Homo sapiens: one gene and its partners. The protein of the gene in region 3 interacts with the protein of the main gene of each other region in a pairwise test. Each region holds a gene or a part of one and is shown on either strand. Other genes may lie near its edges.

Region 1 (7,238 bases), on a different chromosome or scaffold from region 3:
GTAAAAAAATATGGTTCATGGCACCTACTGGGTCCAATATTACTACTTCCTGTGGTAAAATGCCTGTAAAGATTACCTCCAGCAATTCCTGTCATCCAATATGCACATGCAATCAAGAGATAGAATCTATTGCCTCACCCATGGAATCTGAGACTTGGGACTTGCTTTAACCCATAAATTGTGATAAAAATGATACTGTGCCAGTTCTGGGCTTAAGCTATCTGAGAATGGTCAGCTTCCACTATTGCTCTCTTGCTACTCTGGACTGTCACATAAGGAATTCCAGGCTAACCAGATAAAGTGAGACATCATACAGGGAGAGAAGCCATGGGAAGAAGAATTAAGACCCCCGCCCCAGGCAAAAGCCAACACAAAGATCTCAGTCATGTGAGTGAAGCCATCTTAAACCTTCTAGCCTAGCCCAGATACCAGCAGAATGCAGCCTTCTATTCCAACTAATTCACATGGAATGCTGCCCAAATCCTGACCCAGAGAATCGTAATAAAATAGTTGTTGTTTAAGCCACTACATCTTGGGGTAGTTTGTTGCACAGCCATAGATAAATGGAACACTCCATTTGTGGAATTAGATAATAAAGTTTTCTTCAGAGTAAGTTTCTTAACAGCCAGTAACCATTTAAATAGAAAGCTGATAATAGAAAGTAGAAAGAAAAAGAGGTAGAAGGAGAAAAGAGGAGGAATATCAGGGGATAAAGTTATCCACAACTAATAGAGACAGAACAAAATAAATGAGATAGATTGGTAGAGGTGGGGGAAGAAGTGAGTAAGTGAGGGAATTCAGGGACATGTGACCTAAGGAGGAGATAGATTAAGGATTCAGGAGCCCACATGGTGCATGTATGGGTACAGGAGATGTAGACGGAGAAGGGGAACACTAAATTAACAAGAAGGGGGCCTGGGTCCACAGCCCAGTTCTGTTGTAATTAGCCATCTGCCCTCAAGAAACACATTTATTCTGACCTCAAGAAAGGCATTTGTTCTATCTGGCATTCAGTTTCCTACATGGTAAAATGAGGGATCGAGATAAATAATCTCTTCCAGATTTAATTTATTTCCCTTGACAAGAAAATACAAATGAGTTTGACAATTCTTATAAACACTGTGTCCTGAAAACCATACCTATTTATGGGGTGAATGAGACTTTGTAACTATAAGTGGTTGGCTTATTTGTGCAACAAAATGCTAATAGTCTATGTTAATAAGAAGGGAAATATTGTTATTTCAGTAATGTGGAGATGCTCTATTGATAGTATCCATAGGGTTAACAATTTTTTGTCCAAAACTTCTGCCTGACTTACCACAAGGCTTTGTTTTTTATGTTAATAACCTCAATACATCATATCTAATATTATTTTCTAAGAAAAATAATTCTTCTAATGTGAGATTGCTAGATTCTTTGTTTTAAGCCAAGTTATAAATATCCTTTTTATAAAATCTCTTTGCTGTTACTAAAATATTTGATGCTCCCAAACATAGTATCACTACTCCTTAGAATATTAGTTTGGCTTTGTGAAACAAACAAGAACATTACACGTATTATTAATGGGCAAGTATTCTCTTAAATTCTTCTTCTAACATCAATTCTTTTCAGATTTTCATTAGCTCATTTATATTCACTGAATGTGTTCCTTTTTTGAACCCCATTCAGATTCAACTCCTCAAACAAACCAAGCTCACATTCTTATGTATGTGAAAGTATATTTACTGTGCAATTATCGAAGTCTGGGAAACTTTCCTTAAAACTATTTTCTATGTAGGTTATCCCTAACCCTACTTTAATTCCTTTTTATTTTTAGCTCTTAGCCTATTACTTCTGAGAAAGCTTCCTCTGATTCCAAAGTCCAGTTATTCTTATTGAACACCCTCAATATGACACAAATACACTGTTTTGTAATTGCCTAGTTCTAATATGTATTTCACATTAGACTAAGTTTCAAGAGGACAAAGATCTGAAACTAGACATTTTTTTCTTTCTCATTATAAGTTCTGCACTTACTACAGGTGTGTTCAATCAATAATTGTTAACCAAGTGAAAAATGAATGAATGTATTGCATGTGACACTGTGGGAGACATTAAAAAGAAATGGAATACTTTGTAGAACATTAAAATCAGCTATATTTGTTATAGGTATGTATATTAATAATGATACTTTATAAGCATGAAAACAACAGCTCATTTTAAGATCAATACAACCACAATTTTGCCATGTAGCTGAAGTCTTAACTTTTTCTAAATATAATATAATAAAATTTACTATCTATCTTAAAATTGAGAATAATTGAGAAAAGGAAAAGTAAACAGATTATATAGGTCTATTTTCTGGAATAAACATGACAGATGAAAAACACATCAGTAAAATGTGTTCTTTATGCACTTAGGATATTTAAGGAATCAAATCAACTATATAAAGTATTGCATTTTTCAGAATATAAAATACATGTCAGTCAACAACTTATAAAATGTTCCAGAGTGCCCCCAAGTTGCAGAGTAAAGGCCTACAATTCAGAAGCAACAAGGTATAGGAATTGGATGATATTCAACAGAGAAAATTGTGAAGCAGACACAGACATCTATTACCTTTCTAGTGTGAAAGCATACATCTTGGCAGCTTTATCATTCACAAGATACGTTCTTTCAAGAAACTCCATGACGGCCAGGATGAGCTGCGGCTGTTGTTGTCGTTGTTGTTGAACTCACTGCCCAGTTTTGGAAGCAAAGCAGCACTGCAATTATTTATACACTTTCTAAAGAAAAAATTAAAAGGCTCCAGAAATTAAAATAATGAGCTTCCTACATCAGTGTTGTTGGTAGGTCTGCTAAAATTACAGCCTCCTTGCAATATTACCTGGCTTCATTGTTTTCACCTACAAAAACTGCTTTTCTAGGGAGACTTGCAGGTAGCATTACATGAAGTGTGTATGTCTTTCATATGATATCTGATTCAATTGTGCTTTCTAAGAGGTAGAGGAGCTCAAGAGCTTGCTACAAATTGCTGATGTAGGGTTTTGACCTTCGGAGCACACGTGGGTGAGCTGCAAATAGCTACCATTCGCTACACTAAACTAATTCTTTCTTTTTCTCTCCCTCCTCCTTTTTCTGGACTCTTTATCAGCCTAAAATTATTTCTTTGGAATTTAGTTCTAAGATGACCTCTAAGCAGCTGTCAGAATTTACTTGTCTCTCCTAGGACCATTTTGGGATTTCACTATTGAAAGGGAGGACAAGGGTCAATAGTTTCTGAAACCAGTAATCTGAAAACAGTTCTTGGTACAGCAGCTTTGAAATCCTTTTGATTGGCAAGAGAAGGACAGACTCTGCTTCTACGTAAATAACAGCCCTCCAAAATACAAGAACCAGAGTGAGCTTTGTTCTTCCTGGCCAAGGTACCCTCTACTAAGGATCAAGGATTCACCCAAGGAAACCCTATCAGGCATGCCAGTTCCAGCTCCGAGGAAGGAAGCCTCTGAGTTGCTCCTGGGAGACCTCACACTCCTCAACTCCTAGGAATCAGCATTTTACTTCATACAAAGCACTTTCCTTCCCAAATAAGAGAAAGAACTATAGCCTTATGGCAAGAGCCTGGACAAACAGTAGGCATTTGTGTGTGGGCAAAAGGTTTCAAGACCTATAAAGATGTACACAACGGTAGAGAAAGAGGGGGTTGTGCAGACTGGAGAACAGGAGTAAACCCCAGACCACCAGGTTCTTGTTGCCTTTTCCTTGTGTGAACACTAACTTTCTAGTGAGAAAACTCAGAGTAGTTAAGTCCCAGAATAACCCAGTGGCCCAGAGTCACGGGAAGTTGCCCATTATGCTGAGCTGAGATCTCTCACAATGGCCTAATAAAATGAATATTGTGCTCTAAAAGGAGGATGGGGTTCAATGCCAATTGTCATAGGCAGTGACAGGAGAAGTCACCTTTGGTTCAGAATGAGACTATTAGGTCTCCTATCACATCTGTGGTGTAGCTGTACCTCTTATTATCTTAAGATTTCAAACACTCTCATCTATAACATAAATTCTAAGGTCTTCTCATATGACCCCACTCTTACTGATCCTTAACTTTGCTCACACAGTTTGGAGCCTCTAAGAGGCTCTGGGGGAGCCTTTTCCTTGCAAGTGAAGGCATTGAAATCCTGGGTCTACTGTTAGCAGAATAAAAACCAATGTATTTTTTCTCGTATATTCTTACTCTTAACCTTACAAAGTAATCAGTTATTCTGTGGAGGCGAAAGTAGAAAACCAGAAAAGAATTACTAATCCACCTGTGTGACACACTGCCATATGTCACAGCTTGAATCATTTGTGAATAGTTTCTAGCACAGACAAGAGAAATAGAATTCAAGTGAATGAATGTCAGAAAATGAGGAAACTACTTTAAATCAGCCTGAAATTCATTAAGGGTGAGTACAAAAAAAAGAGATAAGCAATATTTTCAAATCAGGAAGGAGAATATTTGGCTATAGATATCAACAGGAAATAAACAATCTGGAAGTTTGAGATTCCTCCATGCGAACTTTGCCTCTAGTACAAATACGGATGTACAGATCTATTTATAATTGACATACATACATACATAATTGACATATAATTTATAATGAGTGTGAAGGATACATGCCAGGTAGTTAATGTGGATTGCCTATGGGGCAAGAATAAAGTGAGAGTAGGATGGGGTTGATGTAGGACAGGGAAAAGTGAAGATGGGAAAAGAGACAATGAGAGACCCAAGCAAAACAACAAAAAATACTGCTACCCCCTGTCAAAAATGTATCCTATGATCTCTTCTATTTGTCTATAAGATAAACTATATAAGTCCTATGTGGTCTAATATCAGCAATTTTATATGGTTCAACTTAAATATACATGCACACATATATAGATACCTAAAATATATGTGTGGATATGTATGTTACATTTACTAATAAAAATGTACATATTTATAAAGTACTAGGAAATTAATTATGATTTTCATCAAAGATTTATGAATCCCAAAAGTTACTCTTGAAGATGATTACCATAAAGCAAAGCTTCCAGTGTGAGTAGCATAAGAACAGAGAACAGTAGATTACAGCAAATAAAATTATGCTTAAAAAGTTTTGCTGCCATAAATTTAGATGCAGATGTTATGATCAAGAATTGCATATTATATCATGTAAAATATGCATCTGCTGATCACCTTATTCTCTTACAAGTTCATTTTAACTGCACCGTCATTCCCTCTCTCAAATATTTTGTCATCACAACATTTATGAAAAATCTCTCATCCTCCCTGACAAACCTTTGGTCTACTTTGGCATGAACTGCCCACCAAGGGCCAACGGCCTAACTGGGCTCCACAAGCAGCATAGAATATATATTTGGAAAGCAACTTGGATCAAAAAGGAAAATCCCATCCCCTGTAGACATTGGTTTTAGTGGGCATTACGCTGCTCATTTCAGTTTCCTAGGCAACCAGCTTCCAAACCATCCCGAATTACAGGTTGTCTTCTCCGCCCACTCTCCTTCACAAGCTTGGAGTAACTGAATGGGAAACACACAATCTATAACAGCTACCTGTGGAAATAAGTATTCTGTCAGCCACAAGAACATCACCAACATCACTGAAGAACTGGTTTGGCTCTTCAGTCCTAGCTGTTGTCAGCAACAATTTCTTAATAGGGTGTTACAAACAGTAGCTAATACTTGTGCAAAAATAATTTCACAAGTATCTTAAACATTGTTGGATATTTCACTTGTAGAAAGGACATATGGATTTATAAAAAGCTACCATCATTATCCCTAGATACTAAAGTACCAAGTACTTACAATTTGTGTTCCCCATATTTAAACTCGTATTTCAGAAATACTTCATGTTGCCAATGTGTGCATGCAACCATCTTTTTAAATCAGACATAGAAATGTGCCTGTTTTTAAATAACAAATGTGGACTTTCATCATGTTTTGCTTTTTCCTGTTGGTGTGGAGAGGTAGTGTGGTGAAGTGGTTTAATATATGGGTTTTCAAGTTAGTTAGGTAGACAATTTTAGTTTCCAGTTTGACCACTTTCTTAGATATGTGACCTTGAACAAGTTGCCTGACCACTGTGTTTTTCCGTTTCTCACCTGTAAAATGGGAGTATTAATCGAATCCATCTTACAGAGTTCTTGTGAAGAGGAAAACAGATAATATGTATAAAAGTTCTTAGCATAGTCTCTGATATATAACCAGTTTTATGTAACTGTGAGTTTCTATACACTGGGCCATGTCTAAGTAAAATGTTTTGGCTATTGCTGAGAAATTGGCTCCAGCTTTAGCAGAAGGCTAAGAATTACCTGTGAATGAAGCATCCATCAAGGAAATAAAGGTTATTGAAAAAGGAAGATCTGGGGACTTCAGCTATCGGCTCTATGACTTTGGGTAGATCTCTCAAACCCTCTGGACTCTACTTTCTCAAATTAGATTGATGTCTGCCTCATTCTACCCCCTCACCAGTAGAGTGCCATTCAGAATGATCTTCACTATGGAGCTGTCTTCCACAACAGGGGAGGCAATTCAAACTCAACCAGTGTAATCACCCACTAAAGATTCTGGACTCATGCATTCTCACATAACTATAAAGATCTTATTATTTCTAAGTTGAGTAGTATTTTCTTAGCAAGGTAGCTTTATGGTTATTACTACAGTGTGAGTATTTCAGAGGTTTCATCTAGAAATGTGAAAACAAAGACATTAGAAATTTAATTGGATTGTATTTTAGAGAGCATTATGAAAATTTTATTTTAATCTAAAGTAAATATGTATAAAACACAAACCATTTCCAATATTTTATACACTGCTTGAAAATGGACCGAAAGCAATATGATGTTTATTTCCTTCTTGATAAATTAGGACCATGTAATTTTTTTTACTATTTCTATTTTTCAAGCGATTGAGCTATAGGAATGTTCTGGTGAAAATGCAATTTGTATTTGTTAAGAATAGAAAGACTTGATAAAATATTGATACTAAAAGAATAAAAGAAATATTTTATTAAGTCTCATAGATGCAAATAAATGACAGAAAAATGAACTAGCATTATTTTTGGGGGGAGAAATATTGGGGCTAGCTGCTTGAAGTGTTTATGAAGTGTATATTTCTTCAATTCTTCTCCATATACCACACTTCTTTTTCCAAGCACTTGCAAATTTGAACTAATTAACCCTCAAAAACGCCCTCTAGGTGAGATATGGTTGTTATTT
Region 2 (7,026 bases), about 150 Mb from region 3:
TCTAAAATTATTCCAAAATTAAACAAAAATTTATTTAAAGGGTCGTGGCTAGGACCATCTCTGGACAGATTAAAAACAAAATGGCTTTCTAATTTTGTTGCTATTATTACAAAAAATAACAGTCTCGAAACTAACTCCTTATACTCATTAACTGTTTTCTTAGGATAAACTTCTAGAATTGAAATTATGGTGTTTTCTAAAGCCTCTGGGCAGTCTAGAAAGAAAAGCAGAAAGAACAGGAAGGAAAAAAGCCGCCAAAGTTCCTGGCTTTGAGCAGGGGTACGAGGTAGGTGGGGGTGGAAAGTAGTTCCTTGTGACTGATGCAGTTGAAGTTGGGGTAAGGCAGCAGTAATAGGTCTGAAAAGATTAACAGAGGCTGACTCTAAGAAGTCCGGGCTTTATAGTGTTGAAAGTTAAAGAGCTTAGCTTTGGCTTGATCCTGCCAGCATAGGGAAGGGGCAAAGATTTCAGATCAGTGCATTTGACATGTTATTGATTTGTTATTTTACTTGTTGGTTTCCTACTTGACTGACTCCTCCCTGCTGCCTAATAAGGTGTAAGCTCCAAGAGGGCAGGAACTGAGCCTGTCTTAGGCACCGTTTCCCCCCAAAGCCTGGAAGAACACCTGGTCTGTAGAGAGAACGCAATGATATGGCCAAATGACTATCTGAGTCTTGTTTCCAAAATGACTCCCCCACCCACCAACTTTTTAGTGTGATAAAATGCACATAACATAAAGTTGACTATCTTAACCATTTTTCCATGAACAGTTCAGTGGCATTAAGTACATTCATACTGCTGTGCAACCATCACCATCATGCATTCACAGAACGCTTTCATTTTACAAAACTGAAACCCCTTACCCATTAAACCCTAACTCCCCATTCCTCTTCCCCCAGCCCCTGGCAACCAACATTCTACTTTCCATTTCTATGATGTCTAGATTCCTCATACAAGTAGAATCATATAGTATCTGTCTTTTTGTGACTGGCTTATTTCACTTAGCATGATGTCCTCAAGGTTCGTCCATGTTGCAGCATGGTGTCAGAATTTCCTTCCACATGGAGGCTGAATAATATTCCACTGTATGGATAGACCACATTTTGTTTATTCATTCATCCTTTGATGGATACTTGGGTTGTTTTCATATTTTAGCTATTATGAGTAATGCTCATATAAACATGGGTGTACAAATATCTCTTCAAAAACCTGTTTTCAATTCTTTTGAGCATTGATATAGTTTGGATATTGGTCCTCTCCAAATCTCATGTTGAAATTTGATCCCCAGGCTGGATGCGGTGGCCATGCCTGTAATCCCAGCAATTTGGGAGGCCGAGGCATGTGGATCACTCGAGGCCAGGAGTTCAAGACCAGCTTGGCCAACATGGTGAAACCCCATCTCTACTAAAAATACAAAAATTAGCTGGACATGGTGGCACATGCCTGTAATCCCAGCTACTTGGGAAGCTGAGGCATGAGAATCGCATGAACCCAGGAGGCAGAGTTTGCAGTGAGCCAAGATTGTGCCACTGCACTCCAGTCTGGGCAACAGAGTAAGACTGTCTCAAAAAAAGAAGAGAAATTTGATCCCCAATGTTGGAGGTGGGGCCTAGTGGGTGTTTGGTTGTTGGGAGTGGATCCCTCTTGAATGGCTTGGTGCCCAAAGATCTGGTTGTTAAAGAGTCTGCTCCCCACTCCTTCTCTCCTCTTCTCTCTCACCACATGACGCCTGCTGTCCTTCTGCCCGAGGCCCTCACTAGAAGCAGATGCTGATGCATCTGAGATGCCATGGGCTAAATAAACCTCTTTCTCTCTTTTTTTGAGATGGAGTCTTGCTCTGTCGCTAGGCTGGAGTGCAGTGGCTCCATCTCGGCTCACTGCAACCTCCGCCTCCCGGGTTCAAGCCATTCTTCTGCCTCAGCCTCCTGAGTAGCTGGGACTACAGGTGCCCGCCACCATGCCTGGCTAATTTTTGTATTTTTAGTAAAGACTGGGTTTCACCATGTTGGCCAGGATGGTCTCGATCTCGTGATCTGCCTGCCTCGGTTTCCCAAAGTGCTGGGATTACCGGCGTGAGCCACTGCGCCCGGCCAATAAATCTCTTTTCTTTATAAATTACCCAATCTCAGGTATTTCTTTACAGCAACACAAATGGACTAAGACAAGTATGCACCCAGAAGTGAAACTGCTGGATCCTATGGTTATTCGATTTTAATTTTTTGAGAAAAATGACTTTTGTTTTTTTGAGATGAGTCTCACTCTGTTGCCCAGGCTGGAGTTCAGTGGCACGATCTCGGCTCACTGCAACCTCTGCTTTCCAGGTTCAAGCGATTCCTGTGGTCAGCCTCCTGAGTAGCTGGGATTACAGGCACCTGCCACCATACCGGGTAATTTTTCTATTTTTAGTAGAGATGGGGTTTCACCATGTTGGCCAGGCTAGTCGTGAACTCCTGACCTCAAGCAATCCACCTGCTTTGGCCTCCCAAAGTGCTGGGATTACAGGTATGAGCCACCATGCCCAGCCCCCAAAATGACTTTTAAGAAGAAACTATATAAAATACTTTTTCCACCTCTGCCTTCAGCATCTGCCCTGAGTGCAGCGTTTCTACACTCAGTATTGGCCTGTGTTAACGAAGCTCTTTTACACCTTGAGGCCTTTGCACAGGCAGTTGCCTCCACCAGGAAGACCTTTGGCGGTGGCGGCTGCACCTGCCCTCCCCGCTCCCCATTTCAGCTCAGACTGCACTCTTTCTGAAAATCCTTCCTGACTCTCCAAGTTTGGGTTAAGCCTCCTCCTTCACGGGCTGTGCTTCCTCATCTTTATTCACATGTTGTTAAGGTACAATCCCTGCTGCCTCCCGTGGGGGATCAGCTCCATCGGGGTGGGGGGCGGGGGCTGACTCTCCCTCGTTCCTGGGCTCAGCGCCTGGCATACCATATGTATCAGGAGATTTGTTTAAAGTGATGGCGCCGGTGTTTAGCTACAGGCAATTTCCCCCAAAAGAAGAGAATTTGCATCTGTCACTGTTTGAAAACAATAATTACCCACAGGCAGTTCCAGTACCTAACTGCTTCTCTCCAAATTGCAGGCAGTTTTAAGGAAGCTGTATGTGAGGCCTCTTATGGTAACTTAAGAAAGTTTGAGTGTTTGTTTTGTTTTTTAAAATCATGTTCTTGCTGGGTGTGGTGGCTCACGCCTGTAATCCTAGCACTTTGAGAGGCTGAGGCAGGTGGATCACTTGAGGTCAGGAGTTCAAGACCAGCTTGGCCAACATGGTGAAACCCTATCTCTATTAAAAATACAAAAATTGGCCGGGCGTGGTGGCATGCACCTGTAATCCCAGCTACTCAGGAGGCTGAGGCAAGAGAATTGCTTGAATCCAGGAGGCAGAGGTTGCAGTGAGCCAAGATTGCACCACTGCACTCCAGCCTGGGCAACAGAGTGACACTCTGTCTCAAAAGAAATAAATAAAATAAAATAAAGTCATTTTCCCTCACCAAATATCAACAAATCATGCCCCACACCCTAACCAGCACAGGCCCAACCTGTGGGTTCCAGGAAAAGGTAGGATAAGGTAAGGCAAGTAAATTCCACCTGCTTCTCTACACCCCTCCCTAGACCACATGTGAGGAGAAAAACATGGAAAAGACATAAAATTGCCCAAGATTTAGAGCCACCTAATTTTACCTGTTGAGGAAATAGCAAAACCTCCTGGAGACATCCAGAACTGCACATCATGTGAGTCCACGATCTTAAAAAAAAGAACTTGCTCCCTGTGGTGAGTTCTCATTCTGCCAGGTTCTGCCAGGATTTGGTGACCCTGGGCTTATCATCTCAAAGGCCTCTCAGGCCAGGGGATGGGCCTGGGAAGCTTCCATTGGTAAAGCTCTGGGGACATTAAAAAAAGAAGAAGGCTAGGTGTGGTGGTTCATGCCTAGGCCGAGGCAGGCGGATCACGAGGTCAAGAGATCGAGACCATCCTGGCCAACATGGTGAAATCCCATCGCTACTAAAAATACAAAAATTAGCTGGGTGTGGTGGCGCATGCCTGTAGTCCCAGCTACTAGGGAGGCTGAGGTAGGAGAATCGCTTGAACCTGGGAGGTGGAGGTTGCTGTGAGCCAAGATTGCACCACTGCAGTCCAGCCTGGCAACAGAGCGAGACTCTGTCTCAAAAAACAAAACAAAACAAAAAAAGAAATGCCAGAACAGGGTTATTAACTCTTCTTTGTTTGAAATGTGGCATTGAAAAAATTAATGCTTTGTGCATCTCAGCAATATAAATTGGGTTGTTGGCACGAGAGCGACAGGCTTTAGGATAAACATGAATTCCTAGTGCACGCAACAGTGAGGCCTATGGGGGTCACAGGCTGCACCGTGAACGTGTGTTTTGAGTCGCTCATTTGTGGAGGGGTCAAGGGTCTACATCTGCAGATTCTCCTCAATGTGAGGCCTGAGTGCTACCTCCCCTGCAGCAAAGGCCCCAGCCTCTGTTTTGTGGCCTCAGTTTCTTCTAGGAATTGAGGAGGCTAGACGAACAATGGCTTCCAACTTTCTGTTTTATTTTTAAAGTCACAGAGTTTTAAAAGTGGATGTTTTGTATCCTTAGCATAAGCCGAGCTTCCTTCCTGTCGGCCCTGCCTCCACCACTCAGCTCTGTCCCTGCAAACCCCTGAGTTGCTTCTAGGACCCATCCAAGGTTTCCCAGGATCACAGTATAACCGGAGCTACATTGCGCAAGGTTCTTACCATGCAGGAGGAGAGACGTTTTTACCTAGTGACTCAGTGCACATCCACAAACAGATAACTGAAAGTTTTACTAAGGAATATTTCTCGTGACAGGAAATGCATGCTATTTTCTAGTCCACTGTCTTCTACTTCACTTTTAAAAATCCAGCGGAAAACCACTCAACGATGCTCAAATCCACTAGTAAGTGGCTGTCCATTCTGTGAACATGAGCTTAGAAAATCCCCAAGATACGAGTACTTCCAGTACTGATGATTTATGGCATTAACAAAGCTGTGATCCTGGTAGAGAGAGACAGAGACCCCGCCCCATCCTGTTCCCAGAATGGGGTGTCCTACCTGAATCACCGATTAGGAAACAAATTCTCTGCACATCTTTGCTATTGAAACGCCTACTCTGCAAGAGCCAGGGTTTGGAGATGAGCATGCCAAATACCGATTTTTCTAGAGACCTGCAACTTGCCTAACCCCATGCCTAATCCCAGGGAGATTTGGGGCAAGGGGCAGTGATGGTGGGGTGGCGGCACTTGGATGGGTTAAAACAAACACAGCAAAAATAAACACATAAAAGTCAGAAGAAACAAAGCTGTCTCCCTCCCTCTGTATGAATTTGGGTCACACGCATCACACCCAGATGGCCCGTGGCTTCCATTTCTAAGAGTTCAGAGAGAATTGCTTTCCCAAACCCCATGGTGATGCAGAAAAACGGCCCTCTGGACTCCCACAGTGGTGAATTGGAAACGTCTTTGCACTTTGCACAGCGTCACAGGGTTTTGGCCAAGGGAATACCTGCTAGCCATCAAGGGGTGGAAGCACGTGAGACCTACAGGTTAGATCCTGCGTGAAGTCACTCACATTATCTCATGAAGATAACAGGCACTGTAATGACGAGTTGAAAAACCAGGATACGGGCTGGGCATAGTGGCTCTTGCCTGGAATCCCAGCACTTTGGGAGGCTGAGGTGGGAGGATCACTTGAGCCCAGGAGTTCAAGACTAACCTGGGCAACACACAGAGACCTTGTCTCTATTTTTTCAAAAGCAACAACAACAAACCAGGACATGAAACAGCTCAGCAAACAAAAACCTGAATAAAACGCCACCATATTAACAGTGGTCGCCAGCCTTCACGATGTCATCTGCTCGTTTTTACAAGGAGCACCTACTTCTTTTGTAATCTGTGGACGAAGACAACTTTAAAAGCCTGCCATCCAAAGACACATTATCAAGTCTGGCTAAGGGAGTGCCAGATAAATGCACTCACTAGCTCATGCCGTGGTGTTAATGCCAGTTTGAACAGACAGGACCTGGAAATGCGCAGACACACTCCTCAATGTGCACACCTCATCTTTCAGGACCCTTGGCCCTTACTCCTCCTGACCATGTCACCACGGATGCCACAAAAACACCTGGTAGTGTGAAGTGCAGACAGAAAGGGGATCTTGGAGGGGGAGGGTGCCCTGTTTTGTTTTTCAAGAATCATCCTCAAAATCATTCAAGACAAACTCTGGAACCTCGGGTTCTGGTCCTGGCTGTGATCTCAGGCAAATCTCCTCTTCCCTGGGTCTTGGTCTCCCCAGTTGTCAAATAAGCAGAGTGGATTTTCTGATGGCTAAGATCCCTCTGGCCCCGATATTCTAAGATCTGAAGCTACGCATTCAGGTTTAAGGGCTGCTAAGTCTGATAAATCCAGGGCAAGAGAGAATGTGGAGACTTTAGGTTGCTCCGCCCAAGTAAACACCACAGACAGAAGGTGAGGACCAACCAGCAGTCTTGAGACGGGAGCTGAGGGGAGGAGTCGAGGGTCAGGGGAGCTCAGCAGAGACCCTCAGAGGGCTATCTCTGGTCAGCATCTTGGGGCTGTCTGGGAGGGACAGGGCTGTGTGGCCTGGTATTGGGAAACCAAACAGGTGGCTTGTTTCTTCCAAACAAACGGCCTGTTTTCTTTCTCAGGAGCAAGAGCTCCCAGGAGGGGTGGCCATGGCAGCGAGGGCTCAATCCAGAGGAAGGGAGAATAAAACATTGGCAGGGGAGGCTGCACCACCTGTCCAGGCTGGGGAGGAGCTCAACTCTATGAAGCCGCTTGAAAGACTGAGAGGTTGAGAAACCTGGGGCCCAAAACAGTCTTGGTCCCGAATGTGGCCAGGTCTCCTGGGTTAAAGTAAAGGGCCCTAGAAGGGAGTCAGGAGGGCTGGGTTCCAGTCCCAGTTCTGCTGCTGAACTGTTGTGTGTCCTTGGGTAAGTCCCATCCCCTCTCTGAGTTTTGTTTGTCAAATGAGAAT
Region 3 (7,384 bases):
ATCTTCCTGGGAGCAGCAGATTTTATAATGGAGAAGCCTTCTTGGTATGTAAGAAATCAAAATAAAAGAATACGCTGGATGCGGTGGCTCATGCCCGTAATCCCAGCACTTTGGGAGGCCGAGGTGGGCGGATCACCTGAGGTCAGGAGTTCAAGACCAGCCTGGCCAACATATAGTGAAACCCCGTCTCTATTAAAAAAATACAAAAATTAGCTGGGTGTTGTAGTGCACACCTGTAGTTCCAGCTACTTGGGAAGCTGAGGCAGGAGAATCGCTTGAAGCTGGGAGGTGGAGGTTGGAGTGAGCCGAGATCGTGCCACTGCACTCCAGCCTGGGTGACAGAATGAGACTCCATCTCAAAAAAAAAAAAAAAGGAAGAAAGTTCAGGATTTGCATGGTGGCCTAGGCTCTTACAATTGTGATAAGGATAAACCTGCTTCATGTGGGACTCAGACACCAGAACTATGTCTGACCTGTGCTGTGCTTAAATGGGCTTTGCCAACACTGCCTTAGGAGTCTCCTTTTCCTAGCCCCTAGGATTAACCAGTTTGAGGAATGGCCTTCCTTTCCTTCTCCTTTTCCTATTCTAGATACATTAAGGTATTCAATCATGATTTTCTAAGGGCTTTTTCTTAATAACCAAGTAGGAATATGTCCACCCTGATGAATTCTGTGTTAATTTCATGCATTAATAATGCTCAGAGAACTGCCTTACTTCCTATTCCTTGGAAGCTAACTCCTTAGAGCTTCCTTGCACACACACTTCTAAGAGACTTTGTAAGAACTTTTTTTGTGTTTAGCTTTTGCTGAGAGGAGGGTGAAATTTAATAGAGCGCACATAAAATTTCATCTAAAGCTTCCTGTTTGTTCATCCTGGCAAAACAGAGGTACAGAAAGGCTGTGAGGGAGTACATCACTCAGCCTTGAGGACTTGTTTGCATCTGCATTGCACAGTGGGGAATGAGAATGTGACCAGTGACTAGAGTAGGTTATTTATTTATTCATTTATTTGAGACGGAGTTTCGCTCTTGTTGCCCAGGCTGGAGGGCAATGGGGCGATCTCGGCTCACTGCAACTCTGCCTCCCAGGTTCAAGTGATTCTCCTGCCTCAGCCTCCAGAGTATCTGGGATTATAGGCGACTGCCACCATGCCCGGCTAATTTTTTTGTATTTTTAGTAGAGACAGGGTTTCACCATGTTGGACAGGCTGGTCTCAAACTCCTGACCTCCTGATCCACCTGCCTCAGCCTCCCAAACTGCTGGGATTACAGGCATGAGCCACCGCGCCTGGCCAATGACTAGAGTAGGTTACTATTTATTTAGCACCTACTATACGTTCCAGGCACTGTGCTTGGCACTGGGGATGGAAAGACAAATAAGATCTATGCCCCATAGGGACCCTAATGTGAACAAATGGAGCATATTGTGCTAAGTGTTATGGTGGAGGTAAGAATAAGGTGACTTGAGAGAACTGTGTGTTAGGGGAAGGGAAAGGGACAAGGATGGAAAAGAGTAGGTGTTTTCCAGGACAAGGTAGGGAACACAATGAGTTCAGGAACTACAGTCTCCTATGCCTGGAGCCTGGAGTATGTGAGAGAAAGGAGAGAGATGAACCCAAAGAGGAAGGTATGTGTTGCTGAGAAGTCAGCAGCAATTTATCTGTAGGTGGTAGGGAACATGGGCATTAGTTTCCTGCAGCTGCTGTTACATATCAGAAATTTGGTGGCAACAGAAATGGATTCTCTCACAGTTCTGGAGGCCAGAAATGCTGAAAACAAGCTATTGGCAGGACTATGCTCCCTCTGGAGGCTCTAGGGGAGAATCCTTTCCTTGCCTCTTCCAGCTTCTAGTGGCTACTGGCATTCCTTGGCTTGTGGCTGCATCACTCCCATCTCTGCCTCTGTGGTCACAGTGCCTTCTCCTCTTCTGTTGGTGTCAAATCTCCCTCTGCTTCCCTCTTATAAGGATATACATGATTGCATTTATGGCTCACCTGGATAATTGTGCATAATCTATTTTAAGATCCTTAATTACCTGCACAAAATACCACCCCCACTCCACTTTTCACTGTCTAAGGTAACATGTACACTTTCCAGAGATTAGGACATGGGTATCTTTTGGGGAACATTTTTCAGTTTACCACACTGTGGGAGATGTTAAGCAGGGCAACAAATGAGTCAGACTTATGTTTACAAAGATCCTTCAAGGGATGGTGTGGCACAGTCAGAAAAAACCTTCTGAAGACATTGATTAAACCTTCCTCATTCTTCTGTGTTTAATGACTACTTAGTATTCTTGTGAATGAATGTACCATAATTTATTTAAGCACTTCCCTCATTTATGAACTTTTAAGTTGTTTCCAATTTTTTTCTATTACAAACAATGCTACAATGAATCACCTTGTAATGGGCCAATTGCACAATGTGCAAATATAAATGTAGGTAAATCAGGAGCCCATATTCTGGGTTCAGACTCAGACACATTGGAGAAAGATAAGAGTGGATGCCTGTTACATTTTACAATAGATAATATTAATGGATTGTGAAATATATACTGAGCACTGTTCTAAGCATTTTTGAAATGGCTTTATTGCAATAGAATTCATATGCCATACAGTTAATTCAAAGCATACAATTCAATGGTTTTTAGTATGTTCAGAGCTGTGCATGCAACCATTACCACAATCTAATTCCAGAACATTTAAATCACCCCATTAGTCTCTTACTACCATTTCCCCTCCTCCATCCCTAGGCAACCATTAGTCTACTTTCTGTTTCTATGGGTTTGCCTATTCTGGACATTTCCTATAAATGAAATCATACAATATATGGTCTATTGTGTCTAGCTTCTGTGAAAGGGAAATATCTTGGGCCCCCCCAAATTACTAAAGGGAAAATTCAAGCTGGGAACTGCTTAGAACAAATCTGCCTCTCATTCTATTCAAAGTTATCACTGTGTTCACTGAGATAAATGCACATCTGATTGCCTCCTTTGGAAAGGCTAATCAAAAACTCAAAGGAGTGCAACCATTTGTCTCTCACCTATCTGTGACTTGGAAGCCCCCTCCCCCCTTGAGTCTTCCTGCCTTTGCTTCGAGTTGTCCCGCCTTTCCAAACACAACCAATGTACTTCTTACACATATTGACGGATGCCTCATGTCTCCCTAAAATGTATAACACCAAGCTATGCCCCAACGACCTTGGGCACATGTCGTCAGGACTTCCTGAGTCTGTGTCACAGGTGCTGTTCCTCAACCTTGGCAAAATAAACTTCCTGGTTAACTGAGACCTGTCTCAAATTTTCGGGCTCCACACTTCTTTCACTTAATACAATGTTTTCGAGGTTCATCCACGTTGTAGCATGTGTCAGTACTCCATTCTTTTTTATTGCATGGGTATGTCACATTTTATTTACCATTAATCAGTTGGTGGCCATTTGTATTGTTTCCACTCTGTTGCCCAAGCTAGAGTGCAGTGGCTTACTGTACTGACAATCATGGCTTACTGCAGCCTTGACCTCCTGAGTCCAAGCCATTCTTCCTCCTCAGCCTCGCAAGTAGCTTGGATTACAGATGCCCGCCAGCATGCCTGGCTAATTTTTAAGAATGTTTTGAAGAGATGAGGTCTCCCTATGTTGCCCAGGCTGGTCTGGAACTCCCGGGCTCAAGCCATCTTCCCAAAGTGCTGGGAATACAGACATGAGCCACCATGCCCAGTCTACTTTTAGTTTTTTTAAGGTCAGAAAAAAAAACAATTGTACAAACACAAAACAATTTAACAATCTATTATTCCTTTCAACATTCCTTCAGTCACTTTTTTTTTTTTTTTTTTTGAGACAGAGTCTCGCTCTGTTGCCCATGCTGGAGTGCAGTATCCTGGTCATAGCTCATTACAGCCTGGAACTCCTTGGCTCAAGTGAGCCTCCTGCCTCAGCCTCCGGAGTAGCTGGGCTTCCAGGCACGCCCCACCACACCAGACTAAGGCCTTGAGTGATTAAAAAGAAAATCTTTTCCTGTGTAGGCACGATCGCAATATGGATGAACCACAGCCTTTGTTCCCGTCTGCACAAGGCTTCTCCCCCGTCTTTGTGTCTCCGGAGCCTTGCACGTGGTAGGTGCTCGGCATTCGTTGACTGGATCAAGTAGGGCGAGGGAGCGCGGCCCGTTCCGGTTTGAAACTGCTCTGGACGCCGAATTAGTGTTTGGCAGCGCCTGGTGGTCTTCAATCCCAGCCCCTCCGGCCCGCCGCGCCCCCCGGGACCAAAACAAGCGGAGGCGAGCGCGGGCGCGCGGGGCATGCCGGGAGCCCCCCGGTGGGCAGGTGCCTGGGCGGGGCGCGCCGCGGTTGGCGCCTGGGCGGCTGGGCGGCTGCCTAGCACCCGGAAGAGCCGTCAACTTAGCGAGCGCAACAGGCTGCCGCTGAGGAGCTGGAGCTGGTGGGGACTGGGCCGCAATGGACAAGCTGAAGAAGGTGCTGAGCGGGCAGGACACGGAGGACCGGAGCGGCCTGTCCGAGGTGAGTGAGCCCGGGGCCGTCGGCCCCCTCTCGCCGCGCTCCCGCCCTGCGTCCCCTGCCCGGGCCTGGGAAGCCTGCGGGGACTCCCTGGAGTTTCTGGACGGTAGCTCTGCCCCTTCTCCTCCTCTTCTTCTGCAGGGCTCCGCGAAGAGGTCTGGCACTACACGGGGCAGTGGCCGCGGCGTCCTTTTCTGCCCCGCGCCCCTTCAGCCCATCCTCCCTGACAAGGGGGCGGCGCAGGAGGAAATCCCCGGACTGAGCTGCGAGTGGGAGGGTGGGCGACTGGGCTGTCGGCCCCGGCCCCACCGGCCGGGGAATGCGCTTTAGGGCCGGGTAGGGCTGGGGGCCCCGAGGTCCAGGCGGAAGGAGCCTTTGCTGGGTGGGTCGGGGCCCCAGACCCGGACTGGGGTGTTGGGGTGGCGGTCCCTACCTCGCGACGGGGCTGGTGGCCGCGCCCCGAGCTCTGCCTTGGTTTTCTGTCCGGTTTAGGTTGTAGGGTGTGACACTCCCACCCGCCCCTGTACACATTGCCTTGTGATTGGGGGTGAGAAACTGCCCCCATCCCATGAGGACAGGGACCACATCTTGTGTCTCTGTCCACACTGCCCACAACTAGTCTCTAGACACCCAGCGCCTCAGGAGACTGCCTGCGTGTTGGTTTGTTTTATTAGAAAAGCTTTTTTTTCTTTTTTTCTGAGACAGAGTCTCACTCTGTCGCCCAGGCTGGAGTGCAGTGGCGCGATCTTGGCTCACTGCAGCCTCTGCCTCCTGGGTTCAAGCGATTCTCCCACCTCAGCCTCCCAAGTAGCTGGGATTACAGACACCCGCCATCAAACCCGGCTAATTTTTGTATTTTTACTAGAGACGAGGTTTCACCATCTTGGCCGGGCTGGTCTCGAACTCCTGACCTCAAGTGATCCGCCCACCTCTGCCTCCCAAAGTGCTGGGATTACAGGCATGAGCCACCGCGCCCGGCCTATTAGAAAAGTTTTGATCGTGCTGAAACCTGGCCACTAATGTCCTATGTTGTAGAACCACACAGAATGCTGCATTTCTATTTAGGGTGCTTTTAGCTTTTGTTTTCCTTTTTGGATGACAAAATAACGTTTCTCTTCGCTTTTTGGTGTATTCTTTAGCCTCCGTTCCCCATCTGTGAAATGAGGATGTTAAGATGATATGGCCAACTGGAAACTAATCAGTGTTTCTTCTGGTTTCTCAGCAAGTTCTTCTTTCTCAGCAAGCTGCTTTCACCCACGTTTGTGGTTGCTGATTTTATTCGGTTTTGTTTTGTGTGATACTGGGACTTAGCATGACATCTCCGAATGTAAGATTGCTCTCTGAATCTTCACCTTGAGGGAGTAATTCTATGGGATCGAATGTTGGAGTCACTGAAATTTAACTTTTTGATATTTCAAAACAAGTTGGTGGGTTCTTTTTAATTTGTTGCCTTTATTAATTGGTCAAGGCTCAGAGTAATTTCACGGGTTTTTTTTTCTTGATTTCTAGCCTCTATTATGAATCTCAAGTGGAACCTCAGACCGGGCCTAAGAAAGGTCTGACTCATAGGTAGCTGACCCTCGTTATTTAAAGCTTTATTTCCATAGACTGTCAACAAGCCTTTATGAACAATTGGTGCTTAAGAGGCAGACACTTTCTCTCCCTGCAGACTCTTGAGGGGTGGAGTGTTGACAGTGGGATGATGCAGATATTATTGTCTCGAAAATCATCACGAAGCAGTGGGCTGACCCTCAACAGTGGACGACTAGTAAAGTTTGCAAACATAAATGCTGAGCTTGTTTTTAACCTAAAATGGTGAACGTCTGTGTTGGATACTGTGAGAAGGGCTTTAATGTGTTATGCTGAGGCATCTGTTGGATCTAATTTAAAAAGAATAGGTGCTTCGTTCTTGTTTTAAAATACTTTGGTCAGTTGGTCAGTTTCCTCTTTCTGAGTGAGATTTCTGTTTATAACATCATTGTATGGCACTTCCAGAGTCTTGAATTCCTAGGAAATGTTTTGTTGCCGACTAACTTCATCTTGCAGGCTGTTTCAGCTTAGTGTTTACTGATTAGGTCAGAGCCTCCTTTAAAATATTGGTACTGATTTGATTGTCTCATATTTTTCATGGTTTGGGGGCTGGTAGAACTGGAGGATTCTGTGGGGAAATTGCTATTTTGTGTGGTAAGTTGAATTAGGCGCTCTTAAAATCTCTTTAAGAGGTCACTAGAAGAGAGTGCTTTTTAAAACCTTTATTCCTTTAATGCAAACCATAAAGGTGTGACTAGTTCTATTTCTCCTACCTCTCCTAGGTAGTTATAAAATTTGCATGGCAGTATCTAATTATAGCCTCACGTTGAATTTTGTGATTGATACCTCATCTTCATAAATACACCTTAAGTCTTTAGTTTCAATGGACTTCTTTCTGAAAGTATAGGTTTTATGTTTTTTATAAAGGATTCTGGGGACAAGAAAGGTATGAATAGTATCTAATTTTAAAGTGTGGAAATGAAGCAGTATTTCTTTCTTACCTTCTTCTGGTTACCAATCCTGTTTTTCTGAACAATTCTTAGTATTATTCTTGGCAAGAGCCCCTCTTCTCTCCACATCACAGAGTGAAAGGGACCTTTGTGAATAACTGCCAGTCAGACTGCCTGTGAGCGCATTGCCTACAAATTCCATCCAGGTACCATTTTAGCTACTCTAATTTCCAAAAACAATATGCTAGCACAGCTTCCAGCAGTCATGAATTTACAGACATTTTATGAGTTTGTTTTCATAATTTGGCAAAAAGAAGTGTTTTGCTTTCACTGAGTCCAGTTATGAGAAGTGGAACAACAGCTTCCTCCTTCCCTGACCAAGTGTGAATGTAA

Evidence for each region. Proteins that work in one complex are often made in the same cells at the same time.
Region 1: the proteins of SFT2D2 (region 3) and SLC30A8 interact in binary tests that used the Homo sapiens proteins (3 or more experiments, as listed by UniProt).
Region 2: the proteins of SFT2D2 (region 3) and TMEM51 interact in binary tests that used the Homo sapiens proteins (3 or more experiments, as listed by UniProt).

What each region holds. Positions count from the first base shown.
Region 1 is NC_000008.11:117,130,759-117,137,996, reverse strand, and holds the start of SLC30A8 (proton-coupled zinc antiporter SLC30A8), read right to left. Parts: upstream 3,003-7,238; 5' UTR 2,670-3,002; coding exon 2,599-2,669; intron 1-2,598. UniProt on the Homo sapiens protein: Proton-coupled zinc ion antiporter mediating the entry of zinc into the lumen of pancreatic beta cell secretory granules, thereby regulating insulin secretion.
Region 2 is NC_000001.11:15,156,723-15,163,748, reverse strand, and holds part of TMEM51 (transmembrane protein 51), read right to left. Parts: intron 1-7,026.
Region 3 is NC_000001.11:168,221,629-168,229,012, forward strand, and holds the start of SFT2D2 (vesicle transport protein SFT2B), read left to right. Parts: upstream 1-4,375; 5' UTR 4,376-4,451; coding exon 4,452-4,514; intron 4,515-7,384. UniProt on the Homo sapiens protein: May be involved in fusion of retrograde transport vesicles derived from an endocytic compartment with the Golgi complex.